Linked DNA regions of Homo sapiens. The protein of the gene in region 3 interacts with the protein of the main gene of each other region in a pairwise test. Each region holds a gene or a part of one and is shown on either strand. Other genes may lie near its edges.

What was found. The genes of interacting proteins can lie anywhere in the genome.
Region 1: the proteins of DYRK2 (region 3) and WDR62 interact in binary tests that used the Homo sapiens proteins (3 or more experiments, as listed by UniProt).
Region 2: the proteins of DYRK2 (region 3) and KXD1 interact in binary tests that used the Homo sapiens proteins (3 or more experiments, as listed by UniProt).

What each region holds. Positions count from the first base shown.
Region 1 is NC_000019.10:36,057,882-36,064,900, reverse strand, and holds part of WDR62 (WD repeat-containing protein 62), read right to left. Parts: intron 6,122-7,019; coding exon 6,030-6,121; intron 4,934-6,029; coding exon 4,871-4,933; intron 1-4,870. UniProt on the Homo sapiens protein: Required for cerebral cortical development. Plays a role in neuronal proliferation and migration.
Region 2 is NC_000019.10:18,552,969-18,560,873, reverse strand, and holds the start of KXD1 (kxDL motif-containing protein 1), read right to left. Parts: upstream 3,005-7,905; 5' UTR 2,960-3,004; exon of another isoform or gene 324-2,959; intron 1-323.
Region 3 is NC_000012.12:67,644,407-67,651,747, forward strand, and holds the start of DYRK2 (dual specificity tyrosine-phosphorylation-regulated kinase 2), read left to right. Parts: upstream 1-4,338; 5' UTR 4,339-4,727; coding exon 4,728-4,776; intron 4,777-5,390; coding exon 5,391-5,539; exon of another isoform or gene 5,540-6,388; intron 6,389-7,341. UniProt on the Homo sapiens protein: Serine/threonine-protein kinase involved in the regulation of the mitotic cell cycle, cell proliferation, apoptosis, organization of the cytoskeleton and neurite outgrowth. Functions in part via its role in ubiquitin-dependent proteasomal protein degradation.

The DNA.
Region 1 (7,019 bases), on a different chromosome or scaffold from region 3:
GAACAGGAGAGAAGGAATGGGGGCCGGGTGCGGTGCCTCACGCCTGTAATCCCAGCACTTTGGGAGGCAGAGGGGTGGGTGGTTCACTTGAGGTCAGGAATTCGCGAACAGCCTGGCCAACACGACAAAACCCCACCTCTACTAAAAATACAAAAAATAGCCAGGTGTGGTGGCAGGAGCCTGTAATCCCGGCTACTCGGGAGGCTGAGGCAGGAGAATTGCTTGAACCCGGGAGGCAGAGGTTGCAGCAAGCCAAGATCGTGCTGCTGCACTCCAGCCTGGGCAACAGACCAAGACTCCGTCTAGAGAAAAAAAGAAGTGGGGCTGGGCGCGGTGGCTCACGCCTGTAATCCCAGCACTTTGGGAGGCTGAGGTGGGCAGATCACAAGGTCAGGAGATCGAGACCACCCTGGCTAACACGGTGAAACCCTGTCTATACTAAAAATACAAAAACAAAATTAGCCAGGCGTGGTGGTGGGCGCCTGTAGTCCCAGCTACTTGGGAGGCTGAGGCAGGAGAATGGTGTGAACCCAGGAGGCGGAGCTTGCAGTGAGCCAAGATCGCGCCACTGCACTCCAGCCTGGGCAACAGAGTGAGACTCTGTCTCAAAAAGAGAGACAGAAAAAAAAAATGTGGCGTTCAGAGACACAGCCCCTGGGCTGCCCACCTCTGGACTTATGACATGCAGGAAGAGCATGCTCTTGGGTTTTAAGCCATGCTGTGGAGGGGTTTCTGTTGCCCGTAGCCACCTCTAACCTGTCGCATGCCCTGACCTTGTGCCTGGCCCTCTGGCAAATGCTGTCTGGCCATCAGTGCACTGATTCCTCAAGCATGCTTCATGGAGTCAGGGCTCTCATGAACCAACTTGGCAGATGAGGTGACTGCAACACAAGGAAGTCCCCTGCCTGCAGTTACCTAACCAGACAGGGCAGAGCCCTGACCTCTAAGCCAGTAGTTCTCAGTCCTGGCTGTACATTAGATTTCCCTGGGGAGCATCTGAAAAGTGTCAAAGCCTAAGATTAGTTGAGTGAAAGTTTGGTGAGGAACAAGATAATATTTGCACTGTCTCAGGAAAGATGTCCCCAGGATACCTGCTAATCACAAAGGTGAAAAGAGAGGCTTTGAAGTGGAGGAATCTGGCAGGCAACACCTTGGCCAAGTGCTCCCAGTGAACACCACCAGTCATAGGAGACCTCCTGAGAGGAGGCACCAGGAAGAACACAGCACCCCTTCTGGTCTGTTCCTGCCAAAGATGCAGAACCTGAGTCTGCCCGTGAGGAGGCATTGGACAAACCCAAATGCTGGGACACTCTACAAAATACCTCGTCTACAATCCTCAGTGTCAAGATTGGCCGGGTGCAGTGGCTCAAGCCTGTAATCCCAGCACTTTGGGAGGCCGAGGCGGGTGGATCACGAGGTCAGGAGTTCGTGACCAGCCTGACCAACATAGTGAAACCCCGTCTCTACTAAAAAAAAATACAAAAATTAGCCAGGCACGGTGGCGCATGCCTGTAGTCCCAGCTACTCAGGAGGCTGAGGCAGAGAATCGCTTGAACCCAGGAGGTGGAGGCTGCAGCGAGCCAAGATCGCCCCACTGCACTCCAGCCCGGGCGACAGTGTGAGACTTCGTCTCAAAAAACAAAAAAACAAAAAAAAGTGGCCAGGTGCTGTGGCTCACGCCTGTAATCCCAGCACTTTGGGAGGCCAAGGCGGGCGGATCACAAGGTCAGGAGATCGAGACCATCCTGGCCAACATGGGGAAACCCCAGCTCTACTAAAAATACAAAAATTAGCCGGACATGGTGGCATATGCCTGTAATCCTAGCTACTCGGGAGGCTGAGGCAGGAGAATCACTTGAACTGGGGAGTCAGGTTGCAGTGAGCCAGGATCCCACCACTGCACTCCAGCCTGACGACAGAGACTCCATCTCAAAAAGAAAAAAAAAAATGTCAAGATCCTGAAAGTCAAGAAAAGACAGAGGAGCCACGTCAGCCTGAAAGAGACTGAGGGGACAACTCAATGCAATGTGTGATTCTAGACAGAATCCTTTGGCCATAAAGGACATTCATGGGACAAAGGCTGACTCCTGAATGGTGCCCTCTGGGGAGTGGATGAGAGTGATATATCAATTTTCATTTCCTGATTTTGCTGGATGTATTACAGTTTAAAAAGATTGTCATTTTTTTTTGTAGGAAATACACACTGAAGTATTTATTTGATTAAGTTTTTTTTTTTTTTTTTTTTTTTTTTGAGACGGACTCTTGCTCTGTCACCCAGGCTGGAGTGCAGTGGCATGATCTTGGCTCACTGCAACCTCTGCCTCCCGGGTTCAAGCGATTCTCCTGCCTCAGCCTCCCGAGTAGCTGGGATTACAGGCGCCTGCCACCAGGCCTGGCTAATTTTTGTATTTTTAGTAGAGACAGGGTTTTGCCATGTTCCCCAGGCTGGTCTCAAACTCCTGACCTCAAATGATCTTCCTGCCTCCAAGGCCTCCCACAGTGCTGAGATTACAGGCGTGAATCACCATGCCTGGCGTGAAGTATTTAGAGATATAGGGGCATCATGTCTACAACTGATTCTCAAATAGTTCAGAACAAATTAATATGTATATAGACAAAAAATGATAAAGCAAATGTGGTAAAATGCTAACATTTGGCCAAGTGCAGTGGCTCGCACCTGTAATCCTAGCACTTTGGGAGGCTGAGGCAGGCAGACTGTCTAAGCTCAGGAGTTCAAGACCACCTTGGGCAACATGATGAACCCCGTCTCCACTAAAACACAAAAAACTAGCTGGGCATGGTGGCACATGCCTGTGGTCCCAGCCACCTGGGGGGCTGAGGCATGAGAATCACCTGAACCCGGGAGGTGGAAGTTGCAGTGAGCTGAGACTGTGCCACTGCACTCCAGCAGCCTGGGTGACAGAGCAAGACTCTGTGTCCAAAAAAAAAAAAGAAAAAAAAGCTAACATTTGTGAAATATGTGAAAGGTACATAGGTATATAGGAGCTCTTTGTACTATTCTAAGTCTGAAATTATTTCAATATAAAAAGTCTCAAAATTGCCAATGCCCAAGTTTCATCCCAGATCAACTGATTTGGCTTTCTCTTGCGTGGCGGTGGGGGGGCGGTGAGGCACAGGGACCAGGTGATTCTGATATGCAGTTGGAGTGAAAATCCCCACACTGGCCACACCACCTCCTAATGCACACCCACTGGTGGCCAAGGGCGGACACCTGCATACCATCTACTATAGATCCAGGCCACCCACTCCACTGCCTACAGGGATTAGGGAGGCAACACAGGTGTGAGGAACTGGCCACAACGGGCCTGACAAATTTCACTAAGCTCAGCCCCTCACTGCCACAGGGGAATTTGGGCCCCAGAGGCCAGAGAATTTCTCACTTCTCCAAACAAAAGGGACATTTGGATTTTTGTGTTAAAAAACTTGAAATGTTGTCCACTTATCCAACCTTTAAAACATACTATATTGGGCAAGTGTGTGTGACTCTGGTTTGTAGCTGCTGCCTTATGAATGCTCTCCCAGTTGGAGGCAGCTATTTTATTTTCAGAGGAGACCAAGGCTCTGAAAGAAGTGTCTCACCTGAGATTCCACAGTGAATAGACGCTTGAGCCAGGAATGGAACCCAGCTCTGCCCTTATCACCAGTAACAGAACCCACAGTTAGGAGCAAAAGGTCCAAAAAGCCACTTTCAAGAGGGAATGCACTTCTGTCAGATAACAAGAACCTGCCGTAGCTTAAGGACCGTACCTTAGGGACCATAAGGGCAGGAGAAAACCCACTCCTTATCCATCCACCTGGAGAACTGGGCCAAAGGAGCTGAGCCTGAGCTATGCCAAGGAGGGACATGGTGTGCCTTCCAAAGGTCACAGCCCTATTGGGACCACATCCCCAGGGTAGCAGTGATCAGTTAGCCCCAAGGCAGAGGAGCGGGTCCTTCCCCAGTAAACTTATAGCTGAAGGGATCTTTCTAAAACCCAAATCATGTTAAGTCTTTCTCTTAGAAAATAGCCATCAATATGCCAGATACTGCTCTTTGGTGCTAGGGACACAGAAATGAACTCAGAGAAAGTCCCTGCTCTCAAGAGTGCTCACACTGAGGGAGACCCACAGTGAATACCATCAATGAGGAAACTGGACAGCATATCAGAGATGGGAGCAAATTTTGTGGAGAAAAGCAAAGCAGGGAATAGAGCTGCTGGAGGGCTGGGGGTGAAAAGCACATTCCTGGCCTGTGGTGCCCTCCTGTGGCTGCTCTCTGCACTCAGCATGCTATGCAGACCCTCTACAAGGCTGCAAGGCCTACGGGATGTGGCTTCTGCCTGGTCCAGCCTCATCTTCCCTGCTCCTTTCTCCAGGCACCCAGATCCCTGGCTGCTTCTAAAGCGCCGGAGATTCTTAACCACTGCAGGGCCTTTGCCCTTCCTGTGCCCCCTGCCTGAAGCGCTCTCCCTACAGCTTCTTATGGGTCACCCTCTCGCTTCCTTCAGGTCTCAGAGTCAAGGCAGCGTTCCCTGAGCCTTCTGATAAGGCTTTCCTCCTATTCTCTGCCCACAAACCTGCCCGAAGACATCCTCCATCATTTCCTCCATAGCACTGATCATGATCAGCCCGTAATTTGCTGACTAGTTTACAGTCTGTCTCGCTCTAGCCAGCAGAGATTCTCGTCTCCTCTGGTCACTGCTGTGTCCCCAGCACACGGAACAGCACCCAGCACAGGCGAATGCTGCTGAGCCAACATGTAAGTGAATGAGTGAGCACCTACCCATGAGTATCTCCAGGCTGTGTAGGGGAGGGGAGGCGTGCCAAGCCCCTGGTTCCACCCCTGCCCCGGGCCCAGGCCTCAGCCTACCTGGCGGTGTTAAAGATGTGCTGCTGCTTGTTCTCCTTGGGGTCCAAAATCACCACCACACAGCTGGGAAGAAAGAGGAAAATGTGCCTCAACTGTGGGGAGTGTTGGGGTCCTGGGATGATTCTATTCCCACCAGAAAAGCCCACAAATAAACAAGCTCCCTCGGTTCTCTCTGGTCTCCTCCTCCTCCCCCTCCTCCAGGTGTTTACGCTGAGAATTCTAGGGCACTTTAACATTGCTATGTTCTTAAATAGAAACCAACACTTCCTCTGAGGTAATGTCTGTCAGGCCCTAGGCTAATTAAGACCTTAAGCTGGCTATAATCCCAGCACTTTGGGAGTATGGGGCAGGAGGGATCACTTGAGCTCAGGAGTTTTAGACCAGCCTGGGCGACAGAGTGAGATCTCATCTCCACTAAAAAAAATTAGCTGGCTGTGGTGGCATGTGCCTGTAGTCCCAGCTACATGGGAGGTGAAGATGGGAGGATCGCTTGAGCACAGGAGGTTGGGGCTGTAGTGAGCTGTTATTCACACTATTGCATTCTAGCCTGGGCAACACAGCCAGACTCTGTCTCAAAAAAGCAAAACAAAACAAAAAGAGAGAAAGAGGGATGTAATTGTTTTAAATCCTCACAACTGCCAGGTCAGGTCACGACTATTTAGGCCCATTTATAGATAAGGAAACAAACCCAGAGAGGGGACGTCCTTAGCACAGTGCCAGGCTACATGAGTATTTATGGAATGAACAGCTGTAGCATCTTCTTCAGTCTTCTCAACTATGCAAGCAGAGGGGGTCACCAGCTCTGTTTTACAGAGGCAGAGGAAGAGGCTCAGAGAGCAGCATACATGGCAGAGCTGGGACACAAATCCAGGTTACCTGACACCACAGCGTGGACTTTAATCACCTGTCTTTCCCAGAATCGCTGTCACCTCCCCCCTGTAGTCATAATAAAGGCTTTCATTGCACTCACTACATGCCAGGAACTGTTCTAGACAGAGAGGGGGCTATGGAATCCTCTCCACAGCTCTCAGAGGCAGGCCCCATTCTCCACATTCTACAGGTGAAAAATATGAGGCTCAGAGCGATTTACGGATGGCTTCAGGTTCCAAGCTCCAAATTCCCTAGCAATGATTAGACGTCGAGGCCCTTATCTGCTTACCCTGCCAGGTAGGCCACATGGCCTGTGCCGGGGTCACAGGTTAGGCCACTGCTGTTCTGGGCTGTGATGCCAAGCACCTTCTCGAGTGACACCTGCAAAGAAAAAGCCCAAGTCAGAGGCACCCACCCTAGCCAGCACCACATGGTGCAGCCGCCTTGGCCACCCATTCAGGTCCTGCTACATTCAACACCCACACTGAGCTTCTGTGGCCACGCCATCCACCAGCAGCTAACACTTGTTCTCTCAACATTCCTTTGACAAATACAACGCTAGGTGAAAAGCACAGAGTGGTGAGGAAGAGACAAATCCCTGCCCTCGGGGGGCTCACATTCTACTGGTGATGGGTATGTAGAACATAGAAAAGGAGCAGAACAAATATGTGAAATAGATGCCAAGTAATGATGGGTGCAAGAGAGAAGAAAGCAGATAAGGAGGTTAGGAGCACAGGGGAAGGGGGCGAATGCCGCGGTGAGAAGGTGACCTGTGAATAAGTTTCTAAGTACTTTTTTTTGTTTGTTTTTGAGATGGAGTCTTGCTCTGTCACCCAGGCTGGAGTCAGTGGTGAGATCTTGGCTCATTGCAACCTCCGCCTTCCAGGTTCAAGCAATTCTCCTGCCTCAGCCTCCTGAGTAGCTAGGATTACAGGCACATGCCACCATGTCCGGCTAATTTTTGTATTTTTAGTAGAGATGGGGTTTCACCATGTTGGCCAGGCTGGCCTCGAACTCCTGACCTCAGGTGATACACCCGCCTCGGCCTCCCAAAGTGCTAGGATTACAGGCATGAGCCACTGTGCCCGGCCTCTTAGTACTTTTATATGTATAAAAGACTTGAATCCTCCCAACAAGCCACGAAGAAGGCTCTATTATCACCCCTGTTTTACAGGTAAGAAGTCTGAGGCCCAAGATCCTACATCTGCAAGTGGCAATGTTGATATACAAACCCAGGCAGTCTGGCTCCAAAGCTAGCACTTTGGGCTGTACAGGAGAG
Region 2 (7,905 bases), on a different chromosome or scaffold from region 3:
TTAGCCAGGCATGGTGGTGGGCACCTTTAGTCCCAGCTACTCGGGAGCTTGAGGCAGGAGAATCACTTGAACCCAGGAGGCGGAGGTTGTGGTGAGCCAAGACTGTGCCACTGCACTCCAGCCTGGGCAACAGAGAGACTCCGTCTCAAAAAAAAAAAAGAAGGAGTAGAGGTGTGTCTGTCACCAGAACCCGACCCGGAGTCTGGCTCATAGCAAGGGGCTGCCAGAATGTTGTTGTGGGGAAGGGCAACAGAACTTTTCAAACTCAGCTCTGACGTGACACTTTTATTAGCAAATTAAAGCCAAGAATTGCAGGTACTCACAGCCAACCTGTGGGCCCCAGCAATCCAGATGGTTCTGAGGTTCCCAGTTTTGCTGGCACACAGATGACCGTAATGGCAGGCAGGGACTTCCCGGAGCAGCCAGGGTAGGAGGGGCTACAGCACTGACCCTCCTAGGGAGTTCAGGAAAAATCTAGGATCTTGATATAGTTTGGCTCTGAGGCCCACACATTTAATAGCCAAGAAACAGAGACGAACTTCTACTGGATCAGAAAGGGTTTCAGAGGCCGGGTGTGGTGGCTCACGTCTGTAATCCTAGCACTTTGGGAGGCCGAGGTGGGCAGACTGCTTGAGGTCAGGAGTTCAAAACCAGCCTGGCCAACATAGTGAAACTCAGTCTCTACTAAAAATACAAAAAAAATTAGCCGGGCATGGTGGCGGGCACCTGTAGTCGCAGCTACTTGGATGGCTGAGGCAGGAGAATGGCTTGAACCTGGGAGGCAGAGGTTGCAATGAGCCGAGATCATGCCACTACACTCCAGCCCGGGCGACAGAGTGAGACTCCATCTCGAAAAGAAGGAAGGAAGGGAGGGAGGGAGGGAAGGAAGGAAGGGAGAGAGAGAAAGAGAGAGAGAAGGAGAGAAAGAGAGAGAGACAAAGAGAGAAAGAGAGAGGAGAGAAAGAGAGAGAGACAGAGAAAGAGAGAAAGAAAGGAAAGAGAAAGAAAGGGTTTCAGAGCTCACTTAATGTACTCTCCCATTTATTCAGCAGCTACTCTATGCTAAACAAAGCATCAAGCTCATACATACTGTTATCATTCTTATTTATAGATGAGAAAACTGAGGCTCAGGGACACTGAGAAACTGGGCCACTGTCACACAGCCAGTGAACCTAAGTCACAACAAACGGCCACAGCCCACGGGTCTCACAAAGGTGTGAATCTGAACAGGTGCACAATATCCAGCTGTGACAGGACAGTGGCTTCTTACAGCAGCTGATTTCTGCCTGACTTCTGATGTTTCTCCAGGAAAAAGGAAACAGGGATTTTTTTTTTCTGGGAAATTGCCTCATTGACAAATGTCAGCAATCAATACTTTTTTCCAAGATATCATGGAGGCCAAGAGCATCTATTTGTGATCTGTATCTGGTCAGTGGTTTGCAGCACCTTCTAGAAATAAGGTGCCACACCCAGCAAAACCCCCTTCCCTCTAATAATAACTATGGTTATTGAACTCCTATGACATGCCATGCAGAGACACCCAGTCTCCACATTCCCAAAGAAGCATGATCTTGTATAAAGAGGATACCTGGACCGGGTGCTCATGCCTGTAATCTCAGCACTTTGGGAAGCCAAGGCTGGTGGATCACCTGAGGTCATGAGTTCAAGACTAGCCTGGTGAACATGGTGAAACCCCCGTCTCTACTAAAAATACAAAAATTAGCCAGGCATGATGGCGGGCACCTGTAGTCCCAGCTACTCAGGAGGCTGAGGCAGGAGAATCGCTTGAACCCGGGAGGCAGAGGTTGCAATGAGCCAAAATCAAGCCACTGCATTCTAGTGTGGGCTACAGAGGGAGACTTCATCTCAACTGAAAAAAAAAAAAAAAAAAAAAAAAAGACACCTGGAGAGGGAGGCCCATAGCTAGTACCAGTGAGACACAGTACTGGGACCTTCTGGGATACACTCCTCCTTCAAAACAGGACTCTTTTCTGTCTCTGGCTCCCAGATGTGAGGGCTGAGGGGTTCCTGGCACCTCCCTCCCGTCCCCCCGCAACTTCCTCTCCCAAGAAGCCTTCCCTGATTACTGCTAGTCTGGCCCACATACACAGTGAAATTGACCCAGCAAGAGCTCTGATCCCAACTCCAAATGTAGATTTATTGAAGAAACGCAGAGAGGTAGGCTGTTTGACCATGGGAGAGCCACTTCACCCTTCTGAATCAGTTTTTTCAACCATAAAATGAAAATAAGGTAGAATGAAGATCTCACAGTGCTGTCTGTGGCAACTGAAACCAAAGGTGATAACGACTGGAGCTCAGGACAGGCTGTTTCTCCAAGAGGAGTGTGAAGAAGTCCCGGGAATCAACATTTTGAGAGCATCCCAGGGGCCTCTAAGAATATATTACGGGCAAACACTTGTAGAGCACTTCATTTCATCCTCAATCACCGTTACGAGGCAGACACAATCATCTCCGAGTGAAACTGAGGCTCACAGGGGCGGGCTCCGTTGCCGAAACTCACAGGGAGAGGCAGAGAAGCACCACGGTTCTATATCCAGGTTATTTAACAGAATTTAACTCAGCCATCCAAGCTCTGAAAAACCCCAAGTGGGGAGGGGCTCAAATATCCCCTCACGCCCCGTCCCCTACAATACAGGGAAACTGAGGCACAAACCGGGCAACGCCCAGCTCCAGGTTACACGACACACCCAGAACACAGGAGGCCCCAATTCCTATGCCCCTGATCCGGATCCAGATCCAGCCCGTAGCGCCGCCTGCGTATCCATTGAGCAGACGGGGAAACTGAGGCCTGTGCGCAGCAGGAATGACCAGATGTGGCCAGTGGCGCACCCCACCCCACCGCAGCCCGGGGGCCGCGCCCGACCCGGACCGGTTCCCCGCGGCCCTGGAGTCCCCAGCCCCACCCCAAACTCGGCCCCGGCGTCGGTAGCGGCGGCACCTGCACATCTGGCGGCCTTGCTCGCGCTTCCGGGATGGCGCCCGCGCCGGCGAAACGTCACCACGCACCGATCCTGCGAGCGCGCGTGGCGGGGACGTACCCTGGAGCCGCTTGCGTGCGTTAAGTCACGACAGGAAAGGGCGGGGCTTAGACGGAGCTTCAGCTCGTGGGTGCATCACAATGAATAGCCAATCAAACAATTCATCTCGCGCCTGCGTATTTCCAGAAGCCCAGGCTTGAAAGCGGCCCGGAAGAAGGAAGGCTGAGAGAAGTGTCCCATTTTGTAGATAGTGTGACTGAGGTCCCAGAGTGGTAACCCTCCCCAAGGTCGTAAATGCTACAGTGGTCAGAGGCCAAACCACACTCAGGTGTCCTGCTTTCCAAGCAGGGAATTAGACTCATCTGTGTTCAGACATCCCTGCTCCACTTTTGCTGATTTTTTTGGTCCAAGTTTCCTTTTTTTTTTTTTTTTTTTTTTTTTGAGACAGAGTTTCGCTCTTGTTGCCCAGGCTGGAGTACAATGGCGTGATCTCGGCTCACCGCAACCTCCGCTTCCCAGGTTCAAGCGATTCATCTGCCTCAGCCTTCCGGAGTAGCTGGAATTACAGGCATGTGCCACCATGCCCGGCAAGTTTTGTGTTTTTAGTAGAGACAGGGTTTCTCCATGTTGGTCAGGCGGGTCCCGATCTCCCGACCTCAGGTGATCTGCCCGCCTCGGCCTCCCAAAGTGCTGGGATTACAGGCATGAGCCACCGCGCCCAGCCCTGGTTTCCATTTACACTTCCACGTTGTTTTGGAGTAATGCGCTGGGGAATTTTTTCAAAAGGGTTTACAGGCTGGGCGCGGTGGCTCACATCCTGTCATTGTAATCCGAGCACTTTGGGAGGCCGAGGCGGGCGGATCACGAGATCAGGAGTTCGAGACCAGCCTGACCAACATGGTGAAACCTTGTCTCTACTAAAAATAAAAAAAATTAGTCGGGAGTGGTGGCGGGAGCCTGTAATCCCAGCTACTCAGGAGGCTGAGGCAGGAGAATCGCTTGAACCCAGGAGGCAGAGGCTGCAGTAAGCCAAGATCGCACCACTGCACTCCAGCTTGGGCGATAGAGCAAGACCACGTCTCAAAAAAAAAAAAGAAGGTCAAGCTAAAAAATGAAGAAAATGTATTTTAAGTTCATGTTAGTTTGTGTATACGAGTACCAAGTTTTTGTAATAAAATGCCTCACAGCTACAATTGGAAAAAAAAAAAAAAACGGGCCTGTGGCCCGAGCCTGTGGTCCCAGTTTCTCAAGAGGCTGAGGTAGGAGTATCGTTTGAGGCCAGGAGGCAGAAGTTGCAGTGAACGAAGACCCCACTCCAGCCTGGGCAACAGAGTGAGACCCAGTCTCAAAAAACAAACAGGCCCGGCGCAGTGGCTCACGCCTGTAACCCCAGCACTTTGGGATGCCAGGCGTGTGGATCACCTGAGGTCGGGAGTTTGAGACCAGACTGGCCAACATGGTGAAACCCCGTCTCTACTAAAAATCCAAAAAAAAAAAAAAAAAATTAGCCTGGCGTGGTGGCAGGTGCTATAATCATAGCTACTCAGGAGGATGAGGCATGAGAATCTCTTGAACCTGGGAGGCGGAGATTGCAGTGAGCCGAGATTGTGCCACTGCACTCCAGCCTGGGTGACAGAATGAGACTTTGTCTCAAAAAGCAACAACAACAACAACAACAAAAATCGCTATAAACTGATGTGGATTAATAAATCCACATCATTATAATTATAATTATTTCCTTTCCTGCCCCTTTAAATTAGCTCCTGGCTGGGTGCAGTGGCTCACGCCTGTAATCCCAGCACTTTGGGAGGCCGAGGCGGGCGGATCATGAGGTCAGGAGATTGAGACCATCCTGGCTAACATGGTGAAACCCTATCTCTACTAAAAATACAAAAAATTAGCCAGGCGTGGTGGCAGGTGCCTGTGGTCCTAGCTACTCGGGAGGCTGAGGCAGGAGAATGGTGCAAACCCGGGAGGCGAAGCTTGCAGTGAGCAGAGATCGAGCCACTGCACTCCAGCCTGGGCGACAGAGCAAGACTCCGTCTCAATAAATAAATAAATAAATAATAAATAAGCTCCTGTGTCCTTTTAATATGTCGCCACCATTCTCTGAGCATTATTTATCTTGGGCTCCACAACATGATCCAATGCTGTGTAAAATCCCTGGAATCAGCCATTTCTCCAAGGAACCTGGTTCCTTTGCTTCAAGAGTAGGATTTAGAAACCAAGATCAGTCGGGGCTCAGTGATTCACGCCTGTAATCCCAGCACTGTGGGAAGCTGAGGTGGGCAGATCAGGAAGTCAGGAGTTCGAGACCACCTGGGCCAACATGATGAAACCCCCCCATCTCTATTAAAAACACAAAAAAATTAGCCAGGCATGGTGGTGGGCACCTGTAATCCCAGTTACTCGAGACACTGGAGAATCACTTGGAACTGGGAGGCAGAGGTTGCAGTGAGCTGAGATCACCCACTGCACTCCAGCCTGGGCAACAAGAGCGAAACTCTGTCTCAAAACAAAAAAGAAAGAGGCCGGGTGTAGTGGCTCACTCCTGTAATCCCAGCACTTTGGGAGGCTGAGGTGGGCAGATCACCTGAGGTCGGGAGTTCGAGACCAGCCTGACCAACATGGAGTAACCCTGTCTTTACTAAAAATACAAAATTAGCCAGGCATGGTGGCACATCCCTGTAATCCTAGCTACTTGGGAGGCTGAGGCAGGAGAATCGTTTGAACCTGGGAGACAGAGGTTGCAGTGATCCGAGATCACACCACTGCACTCCAGCCTGGGCAACAAGAGCGAAACTCCATCTCAAAAAAAAAAAAAAAAAAGAAAGAAGGAAAGAAAGGAAGGGAGGGAGGGAGGGAAAGAAGGGAAAGAAAGAAAGAAATTAGCCGGGTGCTGTGGCTCATGCCTGTAATCCCGGCATTCTGGGAGGCCGAGGCGGGCAGATTACCTGAGGTAAGGAGTTTGAGACCAGCCTGGCCAGCATGGTGAAACCCCGTCCCTACTAAAACACACACACACACACACACACACACCACACACACACAATTAGCTGGGCATTGTGGTGCACACCTGTAGTCCTAGCTACTCGGGAGCCTGAGGCAGGAGAATTGCTTGAACCCAGGAGACAGAGGTTGCAGTGAGCCAAGAACACGCCACTGCACTCCAGCCTGGGCAACAGAGCAAGACTCCATCTCAAAAAAAAAAAAAAAAAAAAAAGGCCGGGCACGGTGGCTCATGCCTGTAATCCTAACACTTTGGGAAGCCAAGGCAGGCAGATTGCCTGAGCTCAGGAGTTCGTGACCAGCCTGGGCAACACAGTGAAACCCTGTCTCTACTAAAACACAAAAAGTTAGCCGGGTGTGGCAGCGTGTGCCTGTAATCCCAGTTACTAGGGAGGCTGAGGCAGGAGAATGGCTTGAACCAGGGAGGCAGAGGTTGCAATGAGCTGAGATTGCGCCACTGCACTCCGGCCTGCGGGACAGAGTGAGACTCTGTCTTCAAAAAAAAAAAATTAAACTAAGATCTGGGTGCTGTGTGTGCTCATTGCTGCTGGGGTGTCACTGCTTCTAGAGGTACCCGTCAGCAGGCACAGCTAAACAATAAGCCAGGCGTGGTGGCACAAACCTGTAATCTCAGCTACTCAGAAGGATGAGGTGGGAGGATCACTTAAACCCAGGAGTTTGAGGCTGCAGTGAGCTGTGATCAAGCCACTGCACTCCAGCCTGGGTGACAGAGACCCATTCTCCAAATAAATACAAATCATGAAGCTGGGTGCAGTGGTTCATGCCTGTAATCCTAGCACTTTGGGAGGCCGAGGCGGGCAGATCAGTTGAACTCAGGAGTTTGAGACCAGCCTGGGCAACATGGCAAAAGTCTGTCTCTACAAAAAATACAAACATGGCCAGGTGCACTCCTGTAATCCTAGCATTTTGGGAGGCTGAGGGGGGCAGATCACCTGGGGTCAGGAGTTTGAGACCAGCCTGGCCAACATGACGAAACCCTGTCTCTACTAAAAACACAAAAATTAGCTGGGCGAGGTGGCGCATGCCTGTTATCCCAACTACTTGGAAGGCTGAGGCAAGAGAATCGCTTGAACCCAGGTGGCTGAGGTTGCGGTGAGCCGAGATCGTGCCGTTGCACTCCAGCTGGGTGATAGAGTGAGACTCTGTCTCAAAAAACAAAACAAGTGGCCAGGCGCGGTGGCTCAGTGGCCAGGTGCAGTGGCTCAAGCCTGTAATCCCAGGACTTTGGGAGGCCGAGGCAGGTGGATCATGAGGTCAGGGGTTTGAGACCAGCCTGGCCAACATGGTGAAACCTCGTCTCTACTAAAAATACAAAAATTAGCCAGGCATGGTGGTACGTGCCTGCAATCCCAGCTACACACAAGGCTGGGCAGGAGAATCACTTGAACCCAGGAGGCGGAGTTTGCAGTGAGCTGAGATCGCGCCATTGCACTCCAGCCTGGGTGACAAAGTGAGACTCTGTCTCAAAACAACAACAAAAACAAAAACAAAAACATTAGCTGGGCGTGGTGGCGCATGCCTGTAGTCCCAGCTACTCAGGAGGCCGAGGTGAGATCACCCGAGTCCCAAAGGTGGAGGCTGCAGTGAGCCGTGATTGCACCTCTGCACTCCAGTCAGGCAACAGAGCAAGACCCTGTCTCAAAAAATAAAAAATAAATACAAACCATGAATTCATACGGAGATGAGGATGCCTTTTCTTTTTTTGAGACAGAGTCTCGCTGTTGTTGCCTGGGCTGGAGTGCAATGGCGCCATCTCGGCTCACTGCAACCCTGCCTCCCAGGTTCAAGCAATTCTCCTGCCTCAGCCTCCTGAGTAGCTGGGATTATAGGCGCCCACCACCATGCCCGGCTAATTTTTTGTATTTTTAGTAGAGAC
Region 3 (7,341 bases):
AGCTGCTCCAAAAGCCCCTGCACCTTGTTTTCACATATCCATAGCAGATAAAGTTTAGAATATTTCTTTATTTTTACTTTTTTTGTGGAGACAGGGTCTTGCTATGTTGTCCAGGCTAGTCTCAAACTCCTGGTCCTCCCTCCTCAGCTTCTCAAAGCACTGGGATTATAGGCATGAGCCATCATGCCTGGCCAAGTTTAGGATAATTCTTAACCTGACTTGATCTATCCATAAACCTAACCCTAGGAAGATAGCAGTACCACCCCTCTGCCTGGCACCCCAAGTTTCCTCTATTCTGAATTGCTTCCCCTTCCCCTGGGACACATCATGCTTTCTTACAACTTGACGCTTCTGAACATCCTATTTCTTCCACTTGGAATGTCCTAACCTGTCTCGCCTAACTTGCAAATTCCCACGCGTCTTTAAAACCTCCACTGAAGCACAGCCCCTGCCAGACACCACTTAAGTGGAGCTCGTCCCTCTCTCCTGTGTGCTATCTCTGTGACTCCTATATGCCTTCTTTACCACTCTTTTCACTTCATTAAATGTCTGGTCTCCCGTACGGAACTGTGAACTTCCTAGTAGCAGTGACCAGAGCCAGGGATTATTTAACTGTGTAGCCCCATGTCTTAGTTTGTTAGGGCTACTATAACAAAATACTATAACCTGGGTAACTGTAACAAACAGAAATTTGTTTCTCACAGTTCTGGAGGCTGGAAAGTTCAAGAGCGTGGTGCTGGCAGATTTAGTGTCTGGTGAGGGCCTGTTTCCTTGTTCATAAATGGTGCCTGCTCTCTGTGTCCCCACATGGTGGAAAAGGCTACTAACTCTCTGCAGTCACTTGATCTAACCACCTCCTAATACCATCACATTGTGGGTTAGGATTTCAAAATATAAATTTGGGGCGTACACAAACATTCAGACCATAACATTCCACCAACGGTGCCAAAAATATGTTAGGTTCTTATAGCTTATTGCTTAATTGAATAAAAGAATGAGTTCCTGGACAGGTGTGGTGACTCACGCCTGTAATCCTAGCACTTTGGGAGGCCGAGGCAGGTGGATCACTTGAGGTCAGGAGTTGGAGACCAGCCTGGCCAACGTGGTGAAACCCCGTCTCTACAAAAAATACAAAAATTAGCTAGGCGTGTTGGTGGGCACCTGTAGTCCCAGCTACTCGGGAGGCTAAGGCAGGAGAACCACTTGAACCATGAGGCAGAGGTTGCAGTGAGCTGAGATTGTGCCACTGCACTCCAGCCTGGGCAACACAGTGAAATTCTGTCTCAAAAAAACAAAAACAAAACAAAACAAGAATGAGTTCCTAATAGATTGCCAGACTGAAGTGTAGTCTACTGCATTTGATGATTCATCATGTCTCCTAGGCCTAGCACATACTAAATTCTTTGTAAATGTTTCTGGGATAAGGGGATTAAATGAGTAAATGTGTTTTGAAACCAGCAATTTTTATGTTCATTTCCAATTTTCCTTGTGATCAGTACTTTGCCCAGTGAAAAATCAACTTTCTTCCTCAAGGCTCTATTCTGAGTTCTCCTGTTTCTCTCTACTCCTGCTAGATCCTGCCTACCTCCTTGTTATCTGAATCTGGATTTTAAACATATAGAACACACAGAGTTTTTACAATGGGTGAAAACCAAAGAGCAGTCTCTTGCTAACTGAATGAAGCTTTTAAGGAGGTTCCTATTTAAAATGAAATCTGCTCTGGTGGAGTTATGAAGATTAAACATGGTAATATTTGTGAAAGTGTTTTATAAAGAGATCAAAATATGTGTAATTATATGAGATAATTGATAATGATGCATTATGATAATAAAATTTGAGGGAAATAACTCCCCAAATTTACCCACTTCACTCTCCCCAAAGCCCCAGGAGTGTGTTTGTACAGCTTTTCTATTTAACATTCACTCAGGGAGATGTCAATATTTAATAGAATATTTAACAGAATGAGGAAAATCTAAGCAATGGTTAATAGTCACTTAGAGGTCAGTAAAAATTAATATAATTTTCAAAGATGTACCATTTATAATCAAAATAGCTATGGGGTAGGTCAACTGCAATATTTCCTTATGTTAAGCCACAAAAAATATACAAAATTGAAATTATATTTGTCATGATATAAAACAATATACTACAAAAAGTTCCCTATTGTCTTTTTCTTTCTTAAAGTTAATGATTGTGATCCTTTGTCAAAAAAAAAAAAAAAAAAGAATCAGTGCTCCTTTTCCTCATGTTAAATGAGTAAATTAATATTACTAATTTGGAAATCGTAAACTATGGCTTCCAGTAACTAGCATTTATTTTATTCATGAGAAAACAGTGGCATATTTAGCTTCTACTGAAGTATTGTACGAATAACTTAAGCAAAAAGGGGTGTCATATTATATTAAAATTGATTTTTTTGTTTCATTTTTTTATTTGAACATCAGTTGTATGGAGTACTCATTTTAAAAAGGAAAATGGTATGAAAATAATTGTTTTGAAAGGAGAAAAAAGAGGTGTGAGCTTTCTTGAAAGTGTAAGGAAAGTAGTGTGATGGAAGTCATAGTGAAATCAGACTGGGAGTCAGAAAACCGGTTCTAGTGTCATCTCTGCTACTTAGTAGCCCTTTTCTTTTAGTCGATTCTAAACACTAAATATGCTTCCGCATGTGGATTTAAATGTGATGGTCGCCAGTGACAAGCATAGGGGGATATTTCTTGCTAGGGTCAGTTCAGGTCATGATTCCTCTAAAGGCATATTATTGGATTATTTTACTGTGGGTCTACTTTATTAGGAGAAGGCCCCGAAAGGGTGTTTTGTTTTGTTTTGTTTTGTTTTGTTTTGTTTGGAGGGACGTAATACTAGGGAAAATTCTTTTTGTCACAGGTTCCCTCTCCCAGTGACCCTAACTTGGAGGCCTCTTTAGGAGTCCCAGAGACTCTGAGAGGGTCACACTGTACCTTGAAACAGTTTTTGGCGTTTGTATAAAGCTGCGGATGCGCTCTGTAGGAGGTTGCTATGACAATTTGCAAACAGTAGAGTGGATGAAACTCCGCAGGAGGTGGCTCCCTTCCGACTGGAGTCTGCACTAGTTCGGGCCTGCACAGTAGGTCCAGCCAGGAGCCAGAGATACTCGGGCGGGGCAGAGCATAATGGACCCCTGGCCCCAAGAGAACTTCAGAAACTAGGCACCTCTCGAGAAGGAAGTGCATGGCATAACTCTGCCCCGTCATCCGGGATTTGTCGGGCTTTCCCACCCCACCTCCTCTCACAGTTGAAGTGGCAAAACCTGTGACCTTTGAACAGAGGCGCACTGTGTGCCACGCACGACGAGGCGCGGATGTGAGACGGGAAAGCAATTTTTTTTTGGTCTTCAAGGAAAAGAGAGGTTGTATATGGCGAATAAAAAAGGCAGGGAAATTCTCCACGTGTCTTGGAAGGGAAGGGGGAAAGAGATGTGTCGGGTGGGGTGAGAGGAATTCGAGGTGTCGCTCCCTCACCGCAGAGCTGAAAGGAAGGTGTGTCTCTCCCAGTGGCCGCGCAGGGGAAAGGCTCGGAGTTGTAAGGAAATAGGAGATGTCTCTGATGTTTATTTTTGCCTAGCAACCCACAGCCAACTGCTTCCCCAGCTGCCGTCCACACGCGCCTCTCTGCCTCCCCTTGTCCTAGCGACTGGCGAGCGGTCACTTGGTGTCAGTAAACCGGGGAGGGTGTGTGGTGGAGGTGGGAGGGCAGCCCCCTCTTTCGCCCCTGCTCAGGGTCAACGAGCTCAGCGGCCGCCCCTCCCGGGACTTGCCTCTCCGAGGTGACCCTCGCACAACTAAGTTATCTACATGATGAATTGGGGAGAGGGGAGTGGCTAAGTCGCTGGGACCAAGAATGGGGGGACGGGGAAGCAGTACTGTCTGTGAGCAGCCATTCAGTTCGAAGAGCTGAAAATGCATTTATGTTTAGGGGTGCGCATGGCAGGGGAGGGGTCTCTGCGGCGCTTTCGGCCGGAGGGCAGCAGCGGTAGGTTGAGCTGTAGGGCAGAGAAGGGGCGCCGCGGGGCCGGGGAGGGGAAAAGGTCGCCGGAGTGGAGCCGAGGGAAGCAGTGCAGATGGCCGGAGGGGGCGGAGGAGGGCGAGCGGAGGCCGCCGAGTTTTCCGGGGAGCGGAGGGGCGGCTGCGCGCAAACCGGGGGACTGAGAGGAGCCGGGCGGGAGGTTGGGTGGGGGTGGGGTGTGCGTGGCCGCGGCCGGGGGAGCCGGGGGCGGGGCCTGCGGCGGCGGAGGAGGGCGGCGGAGGGCGGCGGGGGCGGGGCCGCGCGCCGGCGCCTGTGTGTGAGTGCGCGGGGGCGCGCGCGCGCGGGCCCGGGAGAGGCTCCCGAGCCAGGCGGTCTTCGGTCCTCGCAGCGCTTCCAGCTCCCCGCGCCCCTATGTGAGGGAGACGGGGAGGCCCGCGGCGCGCAGGGGAGGGCGAGGCATGTGCACGGGCCGGAGGGTGCTGCAGCCGCCCGAGGAAGAGGAGGACGGCGGCGAGGAGGAGAGCGGGGGGCTCGCGGCGGCGGGCCCCGGCCGAGGGGATGCAGTGGACTGTGTGTGTCTGGCTGTAGCAGACGCGAGGCGGCGACGAGGCGCCGGGGACCCGCGCGAGGGGCGGCCGGGAGGCGGCGGCGGCGGCCGCCAGAAGTAGCAGCAGGACCGGCGGCGGCGACGGCAGCCCTGAAATGCATTTTCCTCTCCAGCGGCCATGTTAACCAGGAAACCTTCGGCCGCCGCTCCCGCCGCCTACCCGACCGGTAAGGAGGCCGTGCCGCCGCGCCGCATCCCCGGACCCCCGCCGGCCCTGGGCAGCCCCTGTGGCGCGGGCGGCCGCTGCCTGCGGGACCTCGAACAAAGTCGGCGGCGCGGCGCGGGGGAGCCCCCGGGCGGACGACGCGCCCCGGGCTCCATGCAGGGTTGTGCGCGGCCCCGAAGGCCCCTCCGCGGGGAGCCCTCGGCCCGAAGAGGCTTCTGCCTGCCGGGGGCCCGGGCGGGGACCGTCCAGGCCTGCCGCCCCGCCCTGCGCTGCCCGGGGCTTGGCGTGGCCGTGGCTCCCTGCTCAGCTGTCCAAACCCACCTCCCGGCTGCTGGCCGTCTGCAACGTGGGCCGCCTAGCCCCGGCGCGGCCCGGCTCCCCCGCCGGGTCGCGAACTCGCGCGCCAGGGCCCCACTTAACTTTGCAGCTGCCCGCGCCCCGCCCGTGGGTGTGCGCTGGGGAGCCGTGACCCGAACGCCCGTTTTTACTGCCCCGGTCTCTTCCTCCGTCTTTCTTTGGAAGAGGGTTGTCGCTGCCCAGCGGGGTTGGAGGGGGGGTCTGGGTGACTTTCTCCCCCCTGACCCTCTTTTGTCTCCTCCCGCACGTGGCTTCCAGGCCGAGGTGGGGACAGCGCCGTTCGTCAGCTTCAGGCTTCCCCGGGGCTCGGTGCAGGGGCCACCCGGAGCGGAGTGGGGACTGGCCCGCCCTCCCCCATCGCCCTGCCGCCTCTCCGGGCCAGCAACGCTGCCGCCGCAGCCCACACGGTGAGACCCAGCCCGCGGGCGGCCCGGGCGGTGGGGGCGGGAGGGGCCCCAGGCCGAAGCACCCGGACTTGGAGGGGTCTGACGCCGGGAGAAGAGGGGTCGAGATACAAGCAGCCCCACGCCTCGGGCCGATGGTCTCTCGTCGACGCCGCCCTGGTTAAGTTGGGCGAGCCCAAAGCTGCAGCCACAAAGGAAGATTCGTGGCGTGGGCCCCTTACTTCCCCTCCAGAGCTCGCCCACCCATGACCTCCTCTTCCTAGGAACTTCCTCCTTGCTGCTTTCCTTCTTTCCTCATTTTTCGTCCTTGCATCCCAGAGTTCCCTTCCCTGACCCGGTAAACATCTCTGTCCTTCCCCCACCTCCCCGTGGGTAGTGGGTATTTATAGAAACAGATACGTGTTAGGGGACAGCCAGACCGGCCTGCCCGGAAAATCGATCCCCCAAAGAGCCTCCCAGGCCTGGCTCCAGCCAGCAGGGAGCATCGCCAATTGTCCCCCGCGTGTGTAAGCATGTTTTATGAGTGCTACAGGTTTGAGCACAGCAGAAATTGTAATCAACATTAACAAAAATAAGGGCCGCCGCAGCAGTCAAAACAAGCCACCCCTGTAGGATTCTGCAGTTGGACATTATTCAAAAGGAAAGGGCAAGCGTTGCTTTGGAGGTGGGAAAGAAAAAGCACCTAACAGGTGCTGTGGTCTCTGGGAGGGGAGAGGCCAGCGTGGGACTGGTTGCTGGTGGCTGCGGAGACTGGCAAGCTGGATTCGACTAAAGCATGTACCTTTTCTCAGCTCCCAGGGATCACCCTTGGATGGTGATGGCCAGCCTGGAGGAGGTCTGCACTTGGAGGAGGTGATGGTTTGGAGGTCTTTTTTTCCCAATTGGATTTTCCACAGGAACAGCCTAAGATGGTTCTGTGTGAGGGAGGCTTGCTAGGGATTGGTTTTATTTGCTAAGTGAAAGTTGAGTTCTTGAAGAAAAGGCCATCTCCGGTCTACAGGGGAGTAGCTCTGGGGACATATGTTATGGGGAAACTTGTTTGTCAGAGAACTGTGAGGGGATGTCTAGACTGTAGTTGCACCTGTTAGACTTGGAGAGATGTGTGCAAGTTTCGTAGGAAAATGTTTTGTTGCTGTTACTATCTTCCCCCTCCCTCTGTCTGTCTCTCTATCCTGACACATCTGGTCCCAGGGGCTGGGAATTCATTGCACAGAGGTTAACTAACCTGTGTTGGACTGTGGATGGTATAGTAGGATGGATGATTCTGTATATTACTGTTAAGTGTTCTTGTCACAGTGATATTTAAGGGACTGCCATTGATTTTAGGGGTTTGGATTTTTTTGTTTGGGATCATCTGACAATTTGGAAAATATAATACCCAGTTTTTTGCTATGTGTTGATGTAATCACATGACATGGTGTGAGCTGGAAAAAGAACTATTTGGTTTGCATGTGGATTCCAATTTTGTAAGGATGGGCTTTGCTTGATCAGAGCCTCTTTGCAATTGAAATACATGTAATGAAAGTAGATGAAACGACAAGTCTCCACTGGAGGGAGAGCCTGTGGTGCACCAGAAAAGGAAGGATGCGAATGTGCTTCTCAGTACTCCTCATAATGGAGGCCTGTATTTTGCTGTGGCATATGCCAGATTTACTTGTTTTTAACGTGTGTGTAAACTTCGGTATGCTGTTAATTATTAGATGCTTGACTTTGAAGGTGTGAATTTGGGTTTCGATGGTGGTTTAGTTTTGATTTTATTTCTATAACATAGCAGATTTCATAGTACAGGAAAGGTTACAAGGACC